3 linked regions of the Homo sapiens genome follow. The protein of the gene in region 1 interacts with the protein of each later gene in a biochemical or structural test. Each region holds a gene or a part of one and is shown in the gene's direction. Other genes may lie near its edges.

Region 1 (6,555 bases):
AGCTCCATTATAGACCTCGGCCTAGGGTCTCCCCTCCCCACCAGATATTCAGAGCAGGGCTGGCCTTCAGTTCAAGTGTAGACTGTGCTCTTGCCCTCACACTCGAGCTTGTGGATGATCTTCCACTCCGGCTTTCTAAAGTACACTTTCCTTGCCCAGTAGCAGGATTGCCTCTGTGGAGTGTCCCACCAATAATGGTGACAACTGCTGTTTTCATCAGCTCCAGACCCAAAGAGACCTGAAGTGGGGAAGTGTGAAGGAAGGAATATGTGTCATCCAGGGGGGACCCAACTTTGCCTAAGGGCATGAGGCCGGAGCCTCCTTTCCTGACCTTGTCACATGTGGCAGGGTATAACCAGAATGGTGAATCCAGCAGACGGGAGGAGTCCCTGGCAGTCCAGCCAGTTCTCGTGGATGTACTTGAGGAAGGTGCAATTGGCCACCAGAACATGCAGGAGTAGAGGTTAGAGCTCAGCCACAGAGATTATCTTCTTGCAGAAAACTTTTTTCCCCCTTCCTAATCTTGTCTGCTTTGATAGAAGCTGGTACTGGCTGGAAAGGCCTGAAAGCAGGAGGGGACAAGAGTCGTCAGAGGCTGGGCAATGTTCTTGTTTCCGGGGAGTGCTGAGGTCCGGCGGGTGCTGCCCCTGTTCTCTCAAGGATCCCACGTGCTTTGTGTGTTAGAGCAGTGACCATCACCTCCCAACCCAAGGACCTTTGCTGCTCTGCTTCCCACATGGGACTGCCAGCACCCTGAAGGCAGAAAAACTGAATGTACCCGTTAAAGGAGGAGAAGCTGGTGGTGTATGTTGAGATAAGGAGGGTGGGGAGTGTACAGTTACAGGCTGCACAGGGAGGGCAAGATCAATGTTGACACCAAAGTGCCAAAGGCTGTCTGCGCCAGGTCTGGGGCCCCCACTGGTCATACCGCCTGATAAAACCATTGCAGTCCACACTAGGTCTGGAGGCTTCGACACCCACAGCATGTGGGTGTTCTCATGCAGGCCATGAGTATTCGGGGTGCTTTAAGTGCAGGGGAGTTCTGTTGTCCACGTTATTCTTAAAGCCCAGAATAGGCCCTGTTTTATTCTACAGAGATAGGAAGGCACTGGGGCTCACAGAGTGGTGCTGCTTCCCACCCTCACCCTTCTGCCCCCACCTGAGCACAGTGTGGTGCTCAGTGATGGTTATCCTATATTCCAAATACGCATGGCCCAGGACTGGCAGAGTCGGAGCTCGGGGTCTAGCTGTGACCTGGGGATCGGTTGGAGTAGCTTCTTGACCAGCCGGAATTGGGTTAGGTGTCCTAGCATTGGTGCCTATGGAGAAGAACACAGACTGTTTATCACTCACCCCTGGTTCCAGTACCAAGGAAAGGCTGGAGCCATTGCAACTGGAGGCCCAGCGGAGGAAGGGATCAAGAAGAGGATGCAGCCCAGAGCCCAGGACCGAGCATCCACCGGCCTCTGGAGATGGCGTGGTCTCCAGTTGCATCGGGGCTTCAGGGCCCATCTGAAGTGCTGATCAAACCAGGCAGACACACCATGCTGGTGAAGGCAGGCTTTGTAGATGCGGGGCTGAATTGAGCAGCCACAGAACCTCTGCAGCTCTGGGGCCAGTGGCAGAACTTCTAGAAGTACCTGTGGGGTGGGAAACCCCAGCCACAAAAGCAGTGAGCTGACTTCCAGGCCTGAGGCTTTGCCTGCAGGCCTCATCTCAGCCCATGGGACAGATTCCTGGTTTTTTTAGTTTGGCCTTGGGGTAGATGATACCTTCAGCTGTCCACCCTGCAATACCTCACCTCCTGCCTTCTGACCCAGTACTCTGCAGAGCGGGGGAATGGGGCCAGGGGACAGGGGCAGGGAAGAGGAAGAAGCAAGAGCTGCCAGTGTGCTCCAAACCAAGAGAGCCCTCCACATGATTCTGGGCACAGCTGAGGAGGAGTGCAAGCTCAACTCTGCTCACCACACTTAAGAAGCAGGCAAGGGAGGATGAAGGGCAAAAACATGGGGTCCTGAGGCCCTTTTACTCCCTCTACCCTGCTGGAGGTGAGGATGAGAGGTGAGACTTCGTTGGACTGTGCTCCTGGCCAGTTGATCTCACCCAACTCATTACATCAGTAGCCTGGTCACAGGGTGGACACTCTGACCTCTTCTTAGCCTTTCATTGGCAATACTACCAGCTCTATATATGCCCTTATAGGGCCTGAACCTTGGCTCAGGTGGATGGGCTTGGAGGTAAAATAATTGAATGGGTCAGGGGTAGGAGGAGAGATGAGTCTCTGCCAAGGCTGTGTGATGTGTCATCTGAGAGAGTGGGTAACCCCTATTCCCAGCACATGGCCATTTATTTAGAGCCAGGGAGGGGGACGAGAATTCATATTCAAATGTGATTCTTTCTTAATTACTACCAGTTGTTCAGGTGAGGGAATCAGGGAAGGCCAGATTAATAATCCACACATTGCCCTTGCACCTCCTGTCTTGGTTTCCTATCAAAACCTCTCCCGTATCTATGAACATTCCAGCCCTGCAGGTCAGATTGCTGGCCAGGAGTAGTCTCACATTCTAGCTGACTGATGGCCTCGGCTTCTGCTGTTGTATGTGGTTTGATGATTCATGCTGGAGCCTTTGGCTATAACTCTCTTCCCTGTATAAGGGCCATCTGAAGTTTGTCTGCCTGACTCCATTACCTGGTGAATGAGATTGGCTAGCTGCTGCTCCTGCCCCAGCTATTCAGTCATTTGGCAAATACTCATTTAAACAAAGCTCCACAGGGATCTCTGAGAAGGAGCTCACCTCTAGGCACACAGAACCTGGACACAGATGAAAGTTTGCAGAATGACCCAGTTGTGCAGAAGAGACCCACTGGCTGCTCTCAGTGAGGCCAGGGAGAGTCAAACAGAGCATCTTGGACAAAGAGAGGGCTTGAAGGCCCTTTCAAAGTGTCAAGCCAGTTGGATGCACGGGTTGTGTGGAGTCCAGGGGTACATCCAGAAGCAATGGCAGGTGTTATCCATTCATTCAGGTTAGACCTCTGAGCAGACGGCAGAAACGTCAGCCACAGGTGAGCATAAGCTCAAACCCCCCCATTGAAGGCTACATTCTTGTCCCACAGGGCAGAGCACATGGCAAGTGGCATGCTGACTCAGACACCGGGCACTGAGAAAAGTGGGAAGCCATGGTCACAGACTCTACATTCCCCTCTCCTGTTGGCCTCCATCCCTTCCTCAACCGTCCGCAGAACACCTCCTTCCAGCACCTTAGCTCCTGCCTCCCTCTGGACCTATTCAGTCCTCAAGGGTGCCCTGCTAAAGGCTGGGCTGAAAGCTAAGAGGAGAGGTGGCATTCAATGTGTCCTGTGTCCTCCCTGGGGTTGATTAAGGGGTCGATGCCCAATAGAGTCCTTCATCTTGGTGTTCAGCCCAGGGTCCAGCTGCCAAGGGAAGGCTTGGCAATCAAGGGTGATGGAGATAAGAATGAAAAGGGGCACCACCCTGTGCCAAAGCTGGCATGTTGTATATCTGAGAGAGGAGCTGCCTATTCACAGTGTAGGGTTGTCAAGCTGGAGGCAGGGAGAGAAAAGCAAGAGCTTTTTGGTTCCTCTTGAGGATAGAATCTATAGGAAAATGTAAGAGGGTTAAAAATAAATTTCCCATGCATCCAAACTTTTTTCTTTGGTAGACTTTCTTGTCATCTATTTAAAATGAAACAAGTGCATGTACGTGGTTAAGACATTTTAGCTAGGAATGATGGTGCGTGCCTGTAGTCCCAGCTACTTGGGAGGCTGAGGCAGGAGGATCGCTTGAACCTGGAAGGTCAAGGCTGCAGTGAGCCGAGATCATACCACTGCACTCCAGCCTGAGTGATAAAAGTGAGACCCTGTCTCAAAAAAAAAAAAAAAATTAAAGAAGTTAAACAGTGCCGGGCTTGGGGGCTCACGCCTGTAATCCCAGCACTTTGGGAGGCCCAGGCAGGCAGATTGCTTGGGCTCAGGAATTCAAGACCATCCTAAGCGAAAAAATATAAAAATTAGCTCAGTGTGATGATGTGCCTGTAGTCCCAGCTACTCGGGAGGCTGAGGTGGGAGGATCACCTGAGCCCAGGGAGGTCAAGGTTGCAGTGAACCATGATCATGTCACTGCACTCACTCCAGCCTGGGCAACAGAGCAAGACTGTCTCAAAAAAAAAAAAAAAGGAAATTAAATAAAAAGAAGATAGCAGTTTCCCACCTCATTCTTCTCAAACTCCTCTTCAGAGGCAGCGGGTTTTGTTTTTTTTTTAACTATGTTTTTCTACTGGCTCACTTTATTCCTCTAAAATAGTAACTTGTCTATGTGGTGCCATAACGGGTCCAGTATCTGGACACGAGGCCGCACTACCTACACCTTTGGGGATTCTCGGATCCTGACTCTGAGCTACCTCATTCCTAGACACCTGGTGCACCACAATGTGTCAGGGATGTCGGTTTATGTGGGATATTTGCATTTTGTTAGGTTGTGTGTGGTAGTTGAGCAGCCAAGGGGGTAGCATGCGGTGGATATTTGTTTTAGATACACAGTAACTGGAAACTCATTTACTGAGGCTATTTGGTTACCCTGAACTACTGTTTCTACCAAAAAGGCAGGATAAATGCTCCCTCAACACACACCTTTAATTACCAATTTTCAGAGTAAGGGGTTGAGGTAATAGCCACCGCCAGTTTTCCCTTTCTCTTTGAGTATCATTATGAGCTCAAAGTTTTTTATATATTCACTATGATTCAATCATGACAGTTGCTATTTTTGATGCTCAAATTGCCGCAAATCTAATGTCCAAGTGTTCTTGTACTTGTCTAGGCCTAGAATCTTTTAGTGAAGAAAAAGTATTTAGAAGACAAAAATCAGGCTGAGTGCAGTGGCTCACGCCTGTAATCCTAGCACTTGTGGGAGGCTGAGGCAGGCGGATTGCCTGAGCTCAGGAGTTGGAGACCAGCCTGGGCAACATGGTGAAACCCCGTCTCTACTAAAATACAAAAAATTAGCCGGGGGTGGCGGTGTGCACCTTGTAGTCCCAGCTACTCAGGAGGCTGAGGCAGGAGAATTGCTTGAACCCAGGAGGCAGAGGTTGCAGTGAGCTGAGATCGCGTCACTGCACTCCAGCCTGGGTGGCAGAGCAAGACTCCGTCTCAAAAAAAAAAAAAATACGAAAAACAAAAAACATAATCTGGATTGCAGGGCTGATCGTTGCTAATGGAGTGTTATGGCTGTTCAGATGACAGAGGGAGAAAATGTACTTTGTAAACTGTTAGTTCAATGAGGTTATGATTGCACAACAATGTGAACATACTTAATGCCACTGAACTTTATTGCCATTGATAACTTTTAAATGGTAAATTTTGTGTATTATTTTGTCACAATAAAAAGTTTGAAAATCGAGTTCATAATATTTCCAGTTTGGGCCGACCACGGTGGCTCATGCCTGTAATCGCAGCACTTTGGGAGGCTGAGGTGGGTGGATCACAAGGTCAGGAGTTCGAGACCAGCCTGACCAACATGGTGAATCCCTGTCTGTACTAAAAATACAAAAATTAGCCGGGCGTGGTGGTGCGCGCCTGTAATCTCAGCTACTCAGGAGGTTGAAACAGGAGAATCACTTGAACTCGGGAGGCGGAGGTTGCAGTGAGCCGAGATCGCGCCACTGCACTCCAGCCTGGGCGACAGAGTGACACTGTCTCAAAAAAAAAAAAAAAAAAAAAAAAAATTCCAGATTGAATTTAATGTCACAGAGTTTTTAGCCTGTCCACCTGCCCAATTTTGTATTGTTTCTTTTTTTTTTTTTTTTTTTTGAGATGAAGTCTCACTTTGTCACCTAGGCTGGAGTACAATAGTGCGATCTTAGCTCACTGCAACCTCTGCCTCCCAGACTCAAGTGATTCTCCTACTTCAGCCTCCCAAGTAGCTGTGATTACAGGCAGCCTCCACCACACCTGGCAAATTTTTGTATTTTTAGTAGAGATGGAGTTTCACTATGTTGGCCAGGCTGGTCTTGAACTCCTGACCTCAAGTGATCCACCTCCCTTGGCCTCCCAAAGTGCTGGCATTACAGGCGTGAGCCACCACACCTGGCCTGTGTCTAGTTTCTAATGTTGTTAATATAAGTAGTTATTTACTTATTCAAGACCAGCCTGGGCAATATAGTGAGACCTCAACTCTACAAGAAAATTTAAAAATTAGCTGAGGGTGGTGGCACGCACCAATAGTGCCAACCATTCAGAAGGCTGATGTGGAAGGATCACCTGAGCCTAGGAGGCAGAGGTTGCAGTGAGCCGTGATCATGCCAGTGCACTCTATCCTGGGTGACAGAGTGAGACTCTGTCTCTAAATAATAATAATAATACCAGCACTATAATGAAAATACTGAGTCAAGTTTAAAAAAAAATTTTTTTTTTTGAGACAGAGTGTCACTCTGTCGCCGAGGCTGGAGTGCAGTGGTGCGATCTCGGCTACTGCAACCTCCACCTCCCAGGTTCAAGCGATTCCCCTGCCTCAGCCTCCTGAGTAGCTGGGATTACAGGCAC
Region 2 (7,688 bases), on another chromosome or scaffold:
CCTAAGTAGAGTAGCTGGGACTACAGGTGCATGTCACTATGCCTGGCTAATTTTTGTATGTTTAGTAGAGACAGGGTTTCATCATGTTGACCAGGCTGGTCTCGAACTCCTGACCTCAAGCGATCTGCTCACCTCAGTCTCCCAAAGTGTTGGGATTACAGGCGTGAGCCACCATGCCCAGCCAAAACATCTTTTAATGTTAAGCATTCTGAAGCAGGGAAATTGAGTTTTCTGTTTGTTTAGTAATATCTAGTAGCCAAGAATTGAAAATACTGTTATATTTTTCCACATGGACCACCAGACCAATAAAGTCTATATCAGTTTTTGTTTGCTGCATGAGTTATGTGCATTAATGTAAGTATGATGAAGACAGATTCCTAGTCTAAGGTTTGCGCCGTTTGTCATCTCTCACTGGGTTCAATTTTTTGAGCATTCATGCAAATTAAAGCATATTCAGTTCAAGCTTTTATGGAATGACTATGATGCATTAAACTCAAGGATTACAAAAATGAAATGGATTTTGTCCTTGCCCTCAAGAGTTGTTTCCCAATGTGTAGGTCCTAGTTATCTGCATCAGACTCACTTGGAGTGTTTGTTTAAAATGCAGAGTTCTGGGTCCCAAACCCAAACCCAAATCCATCGAGTGAATTTCGATCTCTGGGTGGGTTCTTGAACTCTGTTTTTTTTTTTTTTTAATATTTTACTTTTTATTTTAGACTTTGCATTTAAGAGGCTCTGTAAATGATTCTTGTGTATGCAGAATCAGAGCTCAGGAAGTTTGCTCACTTCAGATAGCATGTTTTTACAATGTTAACTTTTTGTACATTTTATTTTTTTGTTGCCTATCCCTGAAATATCTTGCTGAGTCCACTCACCAATTACCTCTATTGCTGGATATTTTGTTTCCAACATGTTTCACCATTCTTAGAAGTACTGCTCTGCATATCTTTGTATGAATTATTCTTTCTTCCTTTTTGGTTATTTCCTTGGAGTGTAGCTCATAAAATGAAATTGCTGGGGTAAATGTTTATGGCTGTTATTAGATATTGTCTGATGGCTTTTAAAAAGTTTAAGTCAATTGTGATAGCACTAATGTGTTAGTATATAACATCTGAACAGATAAAGATGAAGAAATATTTGTTAGTATTTTAGTAGTTCACCTTTCTAGGATTTTCCAAATATTTATAAATTATGTTAACAGATCTTACTATAGTATAAAACTTTGTAAATTAATGATTTTGGTTTTGACTAAAAATAGCCAGAACAGTACCATTTTCTCACTGTATCAAATTCCAAATAGAATGTTTTTAACATAAAGGACAATTATCCAGAAGTGGTTCTTGGGAAATTTGAAACCTATTCTTTTGTTCCTTTTCCCTCCTGCCCTTGTAATTAGAGTGGTTCAGCTTTCCTAAGGCACTGATTGTCAAAAAGTGGCATCAGACTCACCAGTTGGACTTTAAAACACTAACCAGCCACTAGAGATTGCTTCTATTCCCTCTGTTGAGAATAGGAGCTCTGGTAGGCTGTTGTTACTGTAGATGTGGAAGAAAGGCAAACAATAAAATAGGTAAGGATAATATTAGTTACTACTGTGATTTATGGAGTGGACTAAGACAAAATATAAATGGATAATTCAATTAGCTATTTATGTCTATATCCATTTAAATGTGGACTAGATACATATTTTGACTATTCTTAAATTTCCTCTAGTTCTTTTAAAATGGTGTTTCTTAATTTGCCTTGAGAGTAGAAGTCTCTCATATTCACCTCTGTATTGTCAGTGCCTAGTCTATACTAAGCACTTTCATTTGTGAATGGAAAATGAGTGAATGAATTATGTATGATGGAGTGTATTGGAACAAGATCATTGCCTTTTTTCCATTATAAATTTCAAGATAAAGTATAAGCTAAAAACTTTGAGGTTCTGTTTTTATCTCAGGAGTAATTTAATGTGTTTTTTAAGTTTCAAAACAAAATAAACTCTTAACACCTTCCACTTTCTTACCCTTTTTCCCTGTATAGGAACAAATGAATCGCATGTCCTACAATGAGAAATCAGATATCTGGTCATTGGGCTGCTTGCTGTATGAGTTATGTGCATTAATGTAAGTATGATGAAGACAGATTCCTAGTCTAAGGTTTGTACTGTTTGTCACATTTCACTGGGTTCAGTTTTTTGAGCCTCTGTGCTAACGAAAGTATATTCAAGTCTGAAAGAATTGTACCCTGGGTAAAATTAAGGTAGATAGATGAACAGGCTAAAAGAAACTATTCACAAATTAAAACTATAAGCCATGAGGCTGGGTCTTGACTGTTCAAGGGTCTTGGCTGGTTAGGTGCTTTCTTATTAGATTGACACTTAGCTCAAGGGAGAGCACATAGGTCAGGCAGGTAAGGTAAAGCTACTGTAAGGATGTGGAAGAAATGAAACAAGACTCGGGTAGAGGTCTGGGGATCTGTAGAGCAGGGAAGAGCTCCAATTCTTTTCCTTTGTTCTTCTTTTCATTTTCTTTCCCTTTGAAACTATTCTGTAGAGCAGTGATTCTCAACTAGGGATAAGGGAAGCAAATTTGCCTCTTATGGGGCATTTGATGATGTTTGGATAAATTTTTAGTTATCACAGCTGGGGAGTGCTTCTGGCATCTAGAGGGTAGAGGGCAGGGAGGCTACAAAATACCTATAATGCACAGGACAGCCCCCCACAACAAAGAATTATATGACCTCAAATGTCAATAGTGCCAAGGTTGGGAAACTTACTTATAAGAAGAAAATCCCAGAAGTAGAAACTTAAATACAAACTGGAGCTTAAGCTGTGCTTTTGATTTAGTTCCTATTGTATATTTTCATTTTTACAATTTGAAAATGTCTTCGTCGTCTTCTTCTTCTTTTTTAACCCTAGGCCTCCATTTACAGCTTTTAGCCAGAAAGAACTCGCTGGGAAAATCAGAGAAGGCAAATTCAGGCGAATTCCATACCGTTACTCTGATGAATTGAATGAAATTATTACGAGGATGTTAAACTTAAAGGTAAAGATGATAAGATGATATATTGTCTGTTTCTAGCTGTCAGTTAAGTGTCAGAGCATACATTCTCTCTTGTAGATCAATGGAGACTGAAGAAACGTTAAATATACTTTCTTAGCTAAATTTACTGTGTTAACACAAGTGAAAACATATGTAAATTTGGCAAATTGCACATCCTTGCTGGCCCACCTTCTGCGCTTTCTTTATTTCTCCTCCCACTCTGTCATGCTAACAGATGGTCGGTAGCAAGGAAAGATTGCAAAAAGAATTCAAATTCTCGTTCCCCTTGTCCTTGCCTACCTCACAGTGGCAGGTAGTGAGGGAAGGGGCCAGAAATAAGAGTTTATTACTCTGCCTCTAGCTCTAATTGAGAGATTAAAGACCAGAAGAAGGGGAGGGGTGATGGAGGGCGGACGGAGGACAGCTAAAAACAGAGGGAAAATCAATAAAGAGATTATGTGGAAAAACTCTGGCTATAGAATGGGGAAGGAGATGTTCTGGGGACCAGGCTGACATAAGAGAAGAAGGAAAATGCCGTAGGATCACAGAGAAGGATACAGATGAAGTGACAGGATTGAGAGTCAGTGAGAGAGTATCTTGCTAAATGTAGTTTAGAAATGCAAGGGCAGTACTTCCCCTAAAACAGACCCTAGCAATGCTACCAAGCCCCAGCACAAGATGTGCCAATCTTCAGGGATTGAACCTTCTTAGAAAGGTGAAAAGGGGAAAAGGGAAAAAAGGTAAGTTAACATCTGCATTACCTTGTGGACCCAGAACCTCATGAGTTAAAACCACCAGTGAACTTATTTTTCCAAGTTTTTAAGACCTAGCCATAAAGGAGTCCTTTCTTTTGTCTTGGAAACACATTTTTGTCCTTTTATTTTAACTGCTGTCTTAGGAGGACTATTCTGTTATGCAATCTGACTATAATACTGAGTATTTTTTCCCCAGGATTACCATCGACCTTCTGTTGAAGAAATTCTTGAGAACCCTTTAATAGCAGATTTGGTTGCAGACGAGCAAAGAAGAAATCTTGAGAGAAGAGGGCGACAATTAGGAGAGCCAGAAAAATCGCAGGATTCCAGCCCTGTATTGAGTGAGCTGAAACTGAAGGAAATTCAGTTACAGGAGCGAGAGCGAGCTCTCAAAGCAAGAGAAGAAAGATTGGAGCGTAAGTCTGAATGGGGGTCAAAGCAAAGGAGAACTACCAAGTGGGTTATTTTGATGTGTCTGAATATCTCTTTGAGCAGAATATTTTATACATACAGATCTTATTAGAAGCTTTTGAAAAATACTTGAGAAACCAAAATATGTATTTTAGACTTTTTAATAATCAGGCTTGCTGGCACCTTCATGTTGGACATCTTTCTCTGAGATCAGTTGCTAGTTATATATTATTGGGCCTTAACTGTGATGGCCCTAATACGATAGCCTTGTATTTTACTCTAGAGTTACTTTTTTCTTTTTCGTCTCTACTGTGAATACCCTAATGTTTTCCCACTGTAAAGGAAGGTCTTAAAATTGCTGCTTTCCATAATAAAAAACCATGACTTTTGTCTTTTGAAATGGCCACTCCAACAGAATTCCAGGTCTAAAACCCTACAGTATGTAGATGAGATATGTTCAGGCAATTCTTTTCTTTTTTTTTAACTTTTTATTTTTGAAAATGAGATGGGGTCTCACTATATTACCCAGGCTGGTCTTGAACTCCTGAGCTCAAGTGATCCTCCCATCTTACCTCCCAAAGTGCTGGGATTATAGGTGTGACCTACCACACCTGGTCTGTTCAGGCAGTTCAATAGAGAATCTAGATACAAGATATTTTAAGTCTATAAATAATACTCTGGTGGGTATTAACATTGACTTATGAGTATTAACTGATTAGATGCTAATTTAGTTTTGATATTGAAAGTGTGTCTACTCCACCAAGATGAGAGCTACTCGCAAGCATTTAGGGTTATGCAAGGTAGCTACAGAGTGAGGTTCTTCATTTTAACATCAGGAGACGAGAGATGGGGTCGTATTTGTGACCTGTCACCCTCATGACTCACCTGATTTTACTTCTGCAGCTTTATGCCCAATCCAGGCTTTAAATAATGAAATATTGTATAGTCCTGTGAGATATGCTTACTGTATAGGTACAACCTATACTTACTTGGAAACCTCTGTAAAAAATAAGAAAGCTTTTTCTTATAACTTTCCCCAGTGTTTCATAATTTCTTTTCTTTTTTTTTTTTGAGATGGAATTTCACTCTTGTTGCCCAGGCTGAAGTGCAGTGGCACCATCTTGGTTCATTGCAACCTCTACCTCCCGGGTTCAAGCAATTCTCCTGCCTCAGCCTCCTGAGTAGCTGGGATTACAGGCGCCTGCCACCATGCCTGGCTAATTTTTGATTTTTTAGTAGAGATGGGGTTTTGCCATGTTGACCTGGCTGGTCTTGAACTCCTGACATCAGGTGATCCACCTGCCTCGGCCTCCCAAAGTGTTGGGATTACAGGCGTGAGCCACTGTGACCAGCCATAATTTCATATAGCAACTGAAATCTGAATACTTTCTGAATTTGGGGCCATGAATAAATAGTAACATTTGTTATTAATACTAATCCTATGAACTACCACCTAACTGAATTGTGTTTTTTTTCTTTTGTTTGGGTGTGGTCATTCAACCAGAAGAAGGAGATTTTTGTACTGTGAGGCCAGATCATGCCCTGAAAATTAGCTGTTGCTTATCTTCAGTGAAGAGCAGAGATAGCTTTAGTTTTTTGTTTTCCCAAATGAGTTACTCCCACAAAAGATGACCAAAGGTTGAAGCTAACTTTGTATTTGTTTAAACAAGTCCTTTCAAGAAAATCTAAGATAACATACAGCCTACTAAAACACTCAATTAAAAACTAACATAATCAGGTTGACTGAGGCATAGTGAGAATCCTTTCCCCAAACATTGCTTATCAGTATCAGGCATGCTAGTAGTGATAAGATTGCCAAATGTAAATTGTTTTTTAGTCAAGGTCAGTTGTTAATTTTTTTTTCTTTGTCCATTCTCTTTTTAAAGAGAAAGAACAGGAGCTTTGTGTTCGTGAGAGACTAGCAGAGGACAAACTGGCTAGAGCAGAAAATCTGTTGAAGAACTACAGCTTGCTAAAGGAACGGAAGTTCCTGTCTCTGGCAAGTAATCCAGGTATGAGAATCAACTTGGTCAACAGAAGCTGGTGCTACAAATGAAGAAATGTGCACCAGTGTTGCTCCCAAAGTGGCTTAGGTAGCCCTTTTCATTTACAAATCTCAAATTTTAAGATGGATTTCATTGAATATATGCATTTCAATGGAAACAAAATTCTGTTATAGCAATGATTTATTTCCTGGGTTCATAGACCTGAGGCAATGAGTCATAGAATTTCATGTTTGATTTTCTTTACCTTATCAAACTACATGTTTAGTAATTGATACTTATTTTTATTATCATTATTTATTTTTTTATTTTTTTTGAGATGGAGTCTCACTCTGTAGCCCAGGCTGGAGTGCAGTGGCACAATCTCGGCTCACTGCAAGCTCTGCCTCCCGGGTTCACGCCATTCTTCTGCCTCAGCCTCCCAAGTAGCTGGGACTACAGACACCCGCCACCAAGCCCGGCTAATTTTTGTATTTTTAGTAGAGACGGGGTTTCACCGTGTTAGCCAGGATGGTCTCGATTTCCTGACCTCGTGATCCGCCTGCCTCGGCCTCCCAATGTGCTGGGATTACAGGCATGAGACACCGTGCCCAGCCGATACTTATTTTTAAAAATTAGGGCATTTACAAAACTATTGTATGTTTCAGATTTCAGAGAGATAAACTGCATTTCAAGTAAAAATAAACATTTTAATATTGCCATGCCTCATTTTTCATAGAAAGCATGGCTTAAAAGGCATGATAAGCCACCTGCAGAATAGGCTGTCACGTTTGGATCTTTGCTAACACCCTTTCAAGTTGAAAGACATATTTGTTGAAATTTGATTGTTTAATATCTACATATGTTCTCTGCATTTCCTTCTTTATTTAAAGTCTGGTATATAGATATTCAGCTTTCTCAGGGCCCTGCCTTTGTGTGGCATTGTCCCTTCACTCTGCCGCACTGAGATGTGGTTATCGTATATACCAGTGAACCATTGTCTAACATTCTCCATTTTATAGAAACCCTCAATCTAATTTAATCGACTCTTTAAGATTATGTAAAATGCAAACTGTGAAACATCTTTTTGCTTGATTTATGACACAAACTAACTGTTAAAAGTTGTTGGTTTCAAAAATCGAGCATCTGAATTTTCAATAAAATTTAGAGTTTTTATAACTCCCTTATTCCATGTAGGACAGCATATATGAAAGCTATTATTCCCATCTTTAATAAATTGAGATGTAGTGTGATCAATTTAGTGAGCATTGGCAGCATTTTGTAAATGGAACAGACAAAAAACCCTACTTAAGTTAGATTGATGATCACAATAACTTTGTAGTGAATAAGTGATGGAAAGAAATGAAACTACTGATAGAAGTAAATGAAACAAGGATTATATGAAACTTTGGCTTCATCTCTGTTAAAATACCTTCTTTTTTCCCAATATTGCAGTCTACCATTTCAATATTATAAAAATATTTATTCTGGCTTTTCATAGATTCCACACTGTC
Region 3 (7,688 bases), on another chromosome or scaffold:
ACAAACAGAATTCTCCATTTTGTATTTGGTTCCCATTAGACAACAATCATCAGAGTTAGCTTATTTACTCTATGCAAGACCCTCTTATTCCTAAAACATTGTGCCTTTGCTAATGATGTTTGGGCACTGATAATTTATATAATTTAGTGATGACAGTGATAATGGTTTTTGTTAGGACCATATAGGTCAGTCAGTCAACTTTCAAAATACAGAGCAGAAAACAATAGCAGCTCTAGGGCTGTGTTCAGATATATCCTTGGTCTGCTGCGGCTGGTTAATTAAGTAAGAGACAGAGGACTCAGCTTTTGAGGCCTAGTTGATTTTCATGAGAGTCGATAACTGATCTGTAATTAAAGACTCTACCCCTAATCCTCTTCTATAAATATTTCAGGCCATATAGAACCCAGGTGAGAGAATATGAATACAAATTGGAGAAGACTAAGGAATCATGAGGCTAAATGCAATGTGGAATCCCTGAACTGAAAAGGAACATGTGACAAAACTCATGAAATGTTAAGTCTGTAGTTTAATTAATAGTAGTGAATCAGTGTTTTGATAATTGAAGCTTAGTTTTGATAATTATACTGTAGGTATGTAAAATGTTAACATTAGAGGAAGCTGGGTGAAGGGTATGGGGAATTCTGAATTTACTGTTGCAACTCTTCTATAAATCTAAAAGTATTTCAAAATTAAAAGTTTAAAAAAGTCAAAATGAAGCCACGTGGCATGGCATAAATGTTTTGTTTATAATAGCAAGCAGAATGTCTGAGGAACATAGCCATAGTTTTAGGTATTAACCTGCATATCACAATTAGAGAAGACATTAAACTAGAAAGATGTTTGCTTTCTAGCAGGGCTAGGCTGGATCTGAGTCTGGTAGAGAGAGAGACGAATGCCCAAGTGATTGTTTTCATAATGTTTTCCAAAAGTCAGATGATGATGTGGAGTCTTATTATTTTGTGTTGTTGCAAGACTTCTGTGTTTGTACAGTGGTTGACATGTGTATGGAATGCTGATGTTTAATGAAGGAATGAATGAATGTGGTTAGTATGATGAAGCATGAGTATAGTCCATTTCATTTGAATAAATGGCAGTAAGAAATAAATCCTGCATTTTCACATTTCATTCCCCCCCTACTCACCTCCCACTTCACTATATGCATTTAGGCAGAAAGCTGCAGACTGGGTGAAGCAAGTTATCCAGATTCCTGTGAAGAAATTAAAAGGCTCTTATTTTTAAGTGTCTTTTGCTGCCACTTTTTAACCCTGACAATTATTAACTTCTTCAAAAATAACTATTTTTGACATGCCAGTGAGAGACATAAAGGTGGTGGTTAACAATGAAGGCTCGAAGTAGTTAAACTTGGTTTCTATTCCACTGCTGCAACTTAGTAGCTAGCTGTATAACCTCTGGCAAAATACTTAACTTTATACCCTCACTTTCTCCTAAAATAAGGATACTTCATAGAACTAAGAAGAAATTATCTTCAGAGAGTTTAAATCAGCTCCTGTCACATAGTAAAGCACTTTTAAGAGGTGGGAACAACATATTCATCTAGCAGATCTTTATCGAGCAGCTGTTGTCTGCAGATGATATGCTGAGAGCTGGGAGTACAGAATGTTGTCCCCCATTCCCTGCTCCCGAGGAACTTAGTCTGATGGGATAGACAGATAAGTAAAATAATAAATAATAATAGCAATGATAGCTTCTGTTTATTGACTACCTACTATGTTTCAATCGCAATATAATATCTATTTCTATTAATTCAACTACTTCATGAAATGTAAGTGTTGTCCCTATTTTTCAAATGAGGAAACCAAGGCTCTAAGAAGTTAAGTAATTTGTCCAAGATTGCATAGCTAATAGAAAACCCAGGATTTGATCCCCAATCTGCCTAACACCAAAGTCTTCCTTAACCCATTCTTCAGATGATTACAAATACAGTGTTTGGCAGAGGGCAGTGGCTCACACCTGTAATCCCAGCACTTTGGGTGCTGAGGCAGGAGGGTCACTTGAGCCGAGGAGTTTAAGACCAGCCTACACAACATAGTGAGACCTTGTCTCTACCCAAAAAAAGGAAAAGAAAAAAGGAAAAAAAAATTAGCCAGGCATGGTGGCGTGAGTCTATGGTCCCAGCTGCTTGGAAGGCTGAGGCAAAAAGATCACTTGAGCCTGGGAGATGAAGGCTACAATGAGCTGTGATTCACACCACTGCCCTCCAGCCTGGGCAACAGAGCAAGACCAGTCTCAAAAGAATATATAAATATAACATTTGAAGTGCTTTGACAAGGTTATAGAAGACCTCAGCACATGTAATATTGTAACAGCTTAGTGAGCCTGTCTTTCAGTGTTTCTTTTAATATCCCTATAGACCCAAGTTTCTATATTCATATTACCTACAGAAAATAGAAATAACTGCTTAGTACCACTCCTCCTGTAAGCAAACAGGAAGCTTTCTTTGTGCTAGATTTGTAAAGCAGAGGTTGAAACTGGGCTACCACGGGTCCAGAGAAGTGTTCCCAGCTCTTGTTCTCTTGCCTGTGAAGTGTACTATGAGAGCCTAAGGCAATAAAGAGGCCAGGCCACCTTCTTGACAGGCCTCTGTCCCATTCACTCCTTTGAGTTTATTTCACCAGCTGTGGGGAAGTTCAGAATGAAGTGGCTCTATAAGGGCTCCTGGAGACATTAAAACTTACCAATGGGCCAGGTGGTGGCTCACACCTGTAATCCCAGCACTTTGGGAGGCCACAGCGGGTGGATTGCGTCAGCCCAGGAGTTGGAGACCAGCCTGGGAAACATGGCAAATCCCTGTCTCTACTAAAAATACAAAAATTAGCCTGGTGTGGTGGAGCACACCTGTGCTACTCAGGAGGTTGAGGTGCGAGGACTGCAGTGAGCTGAGATCGTGCCATTGCACTCTAGCCTGGGCAACAGAGCAAGACCCTATCTCAAAAAAGAAAAGAAAGAAAGAAAAACAACCTTACCAGTGCTATTTGGAGAGTATCCTCAATTTACAGGCACTAAAACTCATCCTGTGATTATGGTTTAAAGTGCAGCAATTATTGTATGTATTTCAGGATCTCTGAACACACATCCGAGAGCTTCTTGTGCTGCTTTATCCTGTGAGTGAAATTAACATTTGAACATAGTCCTTGACTCATTTAACATCTAGTCCTTGACTCATGAGAACATCTAGTTTTCGACTCATGGGAACATCTAGTCCTTGACTCATTTGAGAGTATAGTTTTTCTAGAAAATTAGAAATATATATATCTGTATGTGTCCATATGAGATATGATGTTCTAGGAGTGGTTAGTCATAGAGGTGGTACTGTGAAGATAAGGCCTTTCTGACAGTCATTTTGGAAAGTGGACTGTGGAGCTGAGCTGAGGTTACATTGTAAAGAGAGAACTTCTCCCTGGCACCACCTTTGCCTCACACTCCTGGATACCAAAGGCAGACCACAGTGTTGTTCACCAGGTTTAGACTGTATCTGAAGCTCTTTCCCCAGATGTACCCTCTTTTCTCTCCTAAACCTTGAAGCTCCCTCTAAACTTTTTCTACCCCTCCTATCTACTTTTTTGGGACCTTTTTCTCTGAAAGGCAACAGTTGGTGGTAATGGTTTCACAGGAGGAGGAGAGCTGACCTTTCACGTCTAGTATGCTCTGGCATTTTACATTCTTATTCTCATTTAATCCTCACAGCATCCTATCTGGGTAGGTGGATTATCACTACATTTATAGATATGGAAAAAATAACTTTCCTAGAGGACTTGAAGCTTGAAAGTGATAAAACTGGTAATTAGCTGTAGTTCTCATAACTTCATAGGTTGTACTCTTCCATGAAGCTGTAATAATGGGGATTGTTACTGTTATTACTGTTACTACTGCTTGCCTCTAGTTTTTATGTTAGCAAGCTAAGAGAATGCTTTGCCTAAGGTGCACATGTATGTATGGTCTCAAGGTATGAATGGAGTGAGCTTATTTTAACACATTGGGCCTTTACAGCAACCTGCTGACTAAGTGTATTTATCATTTTCACTTTACAGATGGGGAAACTAAGGCTCACAAAGACTGATCCAAAGTCACAAATCCAGTCAATCTGTCTGGCAGTAGAGACTTGATCCAGTCTTTCTTGAGCCATCTCTTAAAGCTCACTGTGCATGCAATGCTGTGCTCCAGCTGGGTGGAGAGCCAGTTCCTGTCACTGAGACAGGCTCTTCAGTCAGGAGTATGTAGCAACATAAGACAGCATGAGTATAACTTAACAAGATAATAGGTATTTGTTTCTTCGGTAAGAATATGAGACTATAAAGGCTTAGCAAAAGGGTATGAACTTGCATTTGTAACAATACTTACTAAATTTTTTAATGCATGTTGAAGGCATCTAAGTAGTGTTTCCAGAGTGCATTCTCTGTATCAAAACTGTAGAGTCAGTATGGCTAAGATCATAAGGAGAAGGCCATTAACTGTTTTGAACTATAATGCCACTGCGATCCATAAATTAGTAAATAAGTGATGGTGATAGGTGGCTTGTGGCTGGGCTATGTGGCCATCATATGTTAATGAGCTATTCAGATGGTTATCTGCCTAAAACAGGATATGTGGACCAACACTTAGAGGGTTGTTACTTAGGAAACACTGCACTCAGTTGCCTTCAAGGGTTATATATCTGGGGTAATGGCAGCCAGTCACTCAGTTGTGTTTAGGTGAATGTCTTAGAGCTTTACTCATTTGTTTCTTTCCTTATAGACCATTTAAGATAAAGAGCTCTTTAGCAGTCATCAGGTAATTGAAATTCTAAGATTATCAAATACTAGTTGGGTTGTCCACTTTAAGGCTGATTTTCTTTCACATGATATAAAGTATTTTTCCAGTCTCTCACTTACTCGCTTTGGGAAGAAAACTTGATTCATTTACACATTCATTCAGCAACATTCCTTGAGTACTATTTGCTAGTCATTGTGCTAATGCCAGGGAAACATCACAAGATAAGATGCCATCCCAGTCCTCACAGTAAATAGTAGTGATATTGTTAATATAGCATATTAGAAAATTTATTACAGAGAAATGCAGTATAGTTTGAGAGCATAGATGAAAATAACATTTATTTCCATCCTAATAGATTTCGGTTTTGGAAATTTCTTTAAAAGTGGTGAACTGCTGGCAACATGGTGTGGCAGCCCCCCTTATGCAGCCCCAGAAGTCTTTGAAGGGCAGCAGTATGAAGGACCACAGCTGGACATCTGGGTACTGCTTTGCTTTGCTGTGTTGTTAAATGCATCTATACTGATAATACTTGGTGTTCTGGCCCATCTTAGAAGCTCCTGGTACTTAACACATAAGCAGTATTTCATATTTTCCCCATCCACTGGACTATAATTACTCAGAGCATCTTGAAATGGATCCCTAGGAAAGAATTTCTAAGGATAGGTGTTGTCATCCTAATATCAGCAGTAATTTAAAGTTAAGTAGTAATCAAAATTATCAGATTCAAATTCTTTGGTATTTATTATAAGATACTTATTGTAGTAGTCAGGGTTTTGGATTTTTTTCAAATTCTGAGAAAATAATAAATCCAGACAGGAATTTTTCAGTCCATATGATTTCAAGAGCCCTGGGGATGTTCAGGAAAACAAAGAGTGTTTGACGTTCTTGGTAGAAAAGTCTCTGCATTGTTTTCTTCCCTAGAGTATGGGAGTTGTTCTTTATGTCCTTGTCTGTGGAGCTCTGCCCTTTGATGGACCGACTCTTCCAATTTTGAGGCAGAGGGTTCTGGAAGGAAGATTCCGGATTCCGTATTTCATGTCAGAAGGTAATCAACTTTTCATCTTATTAATGGTGTTTTACAGTGTTAGTGCTCCAAGTGAAATGCCTAGGTAAAAGCTTCTTTTTTTCTAAGAGTTTGGGTGCCAAATAAAGTGACTGAGCTGTAGGTTAAAAGCTATAGAAAGAAGCAACCTCCTTTATGTAGGCGAGACAGGTTCCAGCCTTCTACTTGTAACTAAACACACAGCATTTCCCAGATTAAGAGCAGCATGTCTTCTCATTCATTCTGGGTCTATAAATGTCCCAGGTTTATTTTAGATTTAACGAAGCCCTTTGTAGATACAGATTCACAACCATTTTACTCCAATATGAAATGAACTTTATAAAATTAAAATTTTTTTAATTAAATAAAAAGCCAAACTGGCAAAACTCTGCTAAATTCAGATGATATGCCATAATCCCTGCCTGTCGTGTATTGAGCTGTTACCTAGATAGCAGTTAAGTTTACCCCTTAGTTTCATTTTGGTTATCATTCTTAACTCTGTTCTTTCTACTAAGAGTAGAAATAATAACTCTTCATAGTTAAGAGCATGGACTGTGAAGGCAGACTACCAGACTGCCTGGTTTTAATCCTGAGTCCACTGGTTACTGGCCATATGACTTTCACAAGTTTTGTCTCCTCTCTATCTGCTTCAATTTCCCCATCTATAAAATGGAAATAACAATAGCACCTACCGCACGGGTGTTGTAAGGTTTAATTAAATTAATCTGTCAGTCAGGTGCAGTGGTTTATACCTGTAAGTCCAGTGGTCTGGGAGGCTGAGGCGGGAGGATCTCTTAAGGCCAGGAGTTGGAGACCAGCCTGCACAATATTGCAAGACCCTGTCTCTACAAAAAAGTTTTTTTTCAATTAGCCGGGTGTGGTGGCATGCACCTGTAGTCCTAGCTACTCAGGAAGCTGAGGCAGAAGGATTGCTTACAGTGAGCTGTGATTGCATTACTGCACTCCATCCTGGGCAAGAGACTGAGACCCTGTCTCCAATAATAATATAATAAATAGGCATAATCTGTGTAAAGCACTTAGCACAGCGCCTGCCATATAGTGACAGGAGGTTACCTTATGTGTGAGTGAAGAGCATCATGTCAGCTCAGAGAATATGCTAGTGCTCAAAGTTGCAGCAGTGCGGTTTTCTTGGTGTAGTCAGAAGTAAGTAATATTTTATGTACACTTTTCTCAGCTACAGTGATGTGGAGGAGAGCAGCAGCCCGTTGGAGAGCTCTTTGCCTCGCTTACGTAGCCTTAGTATATCAGCATTAGATATGACTGAGGATCGATTTATTATTTGCTTGTTCTAGGAATGAGGCTTATTTCTTTCCTTTAGTGGAAACCAAAGTCTGTTTCTAGATATTTTCAGTTGTGAAATTCAGTAGAAAGTTTCCTTTAGCCCAGAATCTGATAGACCTACACCCTCCTGTTTTTCTTAGGTATTTGTTCACCATGTGAACTTGAGAAATATAAGTAGCCTGCATGTGTTCATTTATTCATTTGACCTTCTGCTTTCCAGTAGAGGATACAAAGATTAACACCCTTGTACAAAGTCACATGAGTCAAGCAAATAACCCTGAAGTGCAAGGTGATTCTTGTGACTTTTGTAACATTGTGTTTTCTATAGATTGCGAGCACCTTATCCGAAGGATGTTGGTCCTAGACCCATCCAAACGGCTAACCATAGCCCAAATCAAGGAGCATAAATGGATGCTCATAGAAGTTCCTGTCCAGAGACCTGTTCTCTATCCACAAGAGCAAGAAAATGAGCCATCCATCGGGGAGTTTAATGAGCAGGTTCTGCGACTGATGCACAGCCTTGGAATAGATCAGCAGAAAACCATTGAGGTAAAGTGATCAGAGATTTCGGGGT

Evidence for each region. Proteins that work in one complex are often made in the same cells at the same time.
Region 2: of the proteins of CEP250 (region 1) and NEK2, one has a biochemical effect on the other in vitro, tested with the Homo sapiens proteins (one study listed by BioGRID).
Region 3: of the proteins of CEP250 (region 1) and SIK2, one has a biochemical effect on the other in vitro, tested with the Homo sapiens proteins (one study listed by BioGRID and IntAct).

The regions. Positions count from the first base shown.
Region 1 is NC_000020.11:35,513,868-35,520,422, forward strand, and holds the end of CEP250 (centrosome-associated protein CEP250), read left to right. Parts: 3' UTR 1-159; coding exon of another isoform or gene 160-162; 3' UTR 163-3,114; coding exon of another isoform or gene 3,115-3,162; 3' UTR 3,163-5,413; downstream 5,414-6,555. UniProt on the Homo sapiens protein: Plays an important role in centrosome cohesion during interphase. Recruits CCDC102B to the proximal ends of centrioles. Maintains centrosome cohesion by forming intercentriolar linkages.
Region 2 is NC_000001.11:211,665,622-211,673,309, reverse strand, and holds part of NEK2 (serine/threonine-protein kinase Nek2), read left to right. Parts: intron 1-2,025; coding exon 2,026-2,108; intron 2,109-2,902; coding exon 2,903-3,029; intron 3,030-3,977; coding exon 3,978-4,197; intron 4,198-6,078; coding exon 6,079-6,204; coding exon of another isoform or gene 6,205-6,248; exon of another isoform or gene 6,249-6,893; intron 6,894-7,688. UniProt on the Homo sapiens protein: Protein kinase which is involved in the control of centrosome separation and bipolar spindle formation in mitotic cells and chromatin condensation in meiotic cells.
Region 3 is NC_000011.10:111,695,761-111,703,448, forward strand, and holds part of SIK2 (serine/threonine-protein kinase SIK2), read left to right. Parts: intron 1-1,141; exon of another isoform or gene 1,142-1,195; coding exon of another isoform or gene 1,196-1,207; intron 1,208-2,984; exon of another isoform or gene 2,985-3,045; coding exon of another isoform or gene 3,046-3,120; intron 3,121-5,125; coding exon 5,126-5,250; intron 5,251-5,691; coding exon 5,692-5,815; intron 5,816-7,442; coding exon 7,443-7,663; intron 7,664-7,688. UniProt on the Homo sapiens protein: Serine/threonine-protein kinase that plays a role in many biological processes such as fatty acid oxidation, autophagy, immune response or glucose metabolism.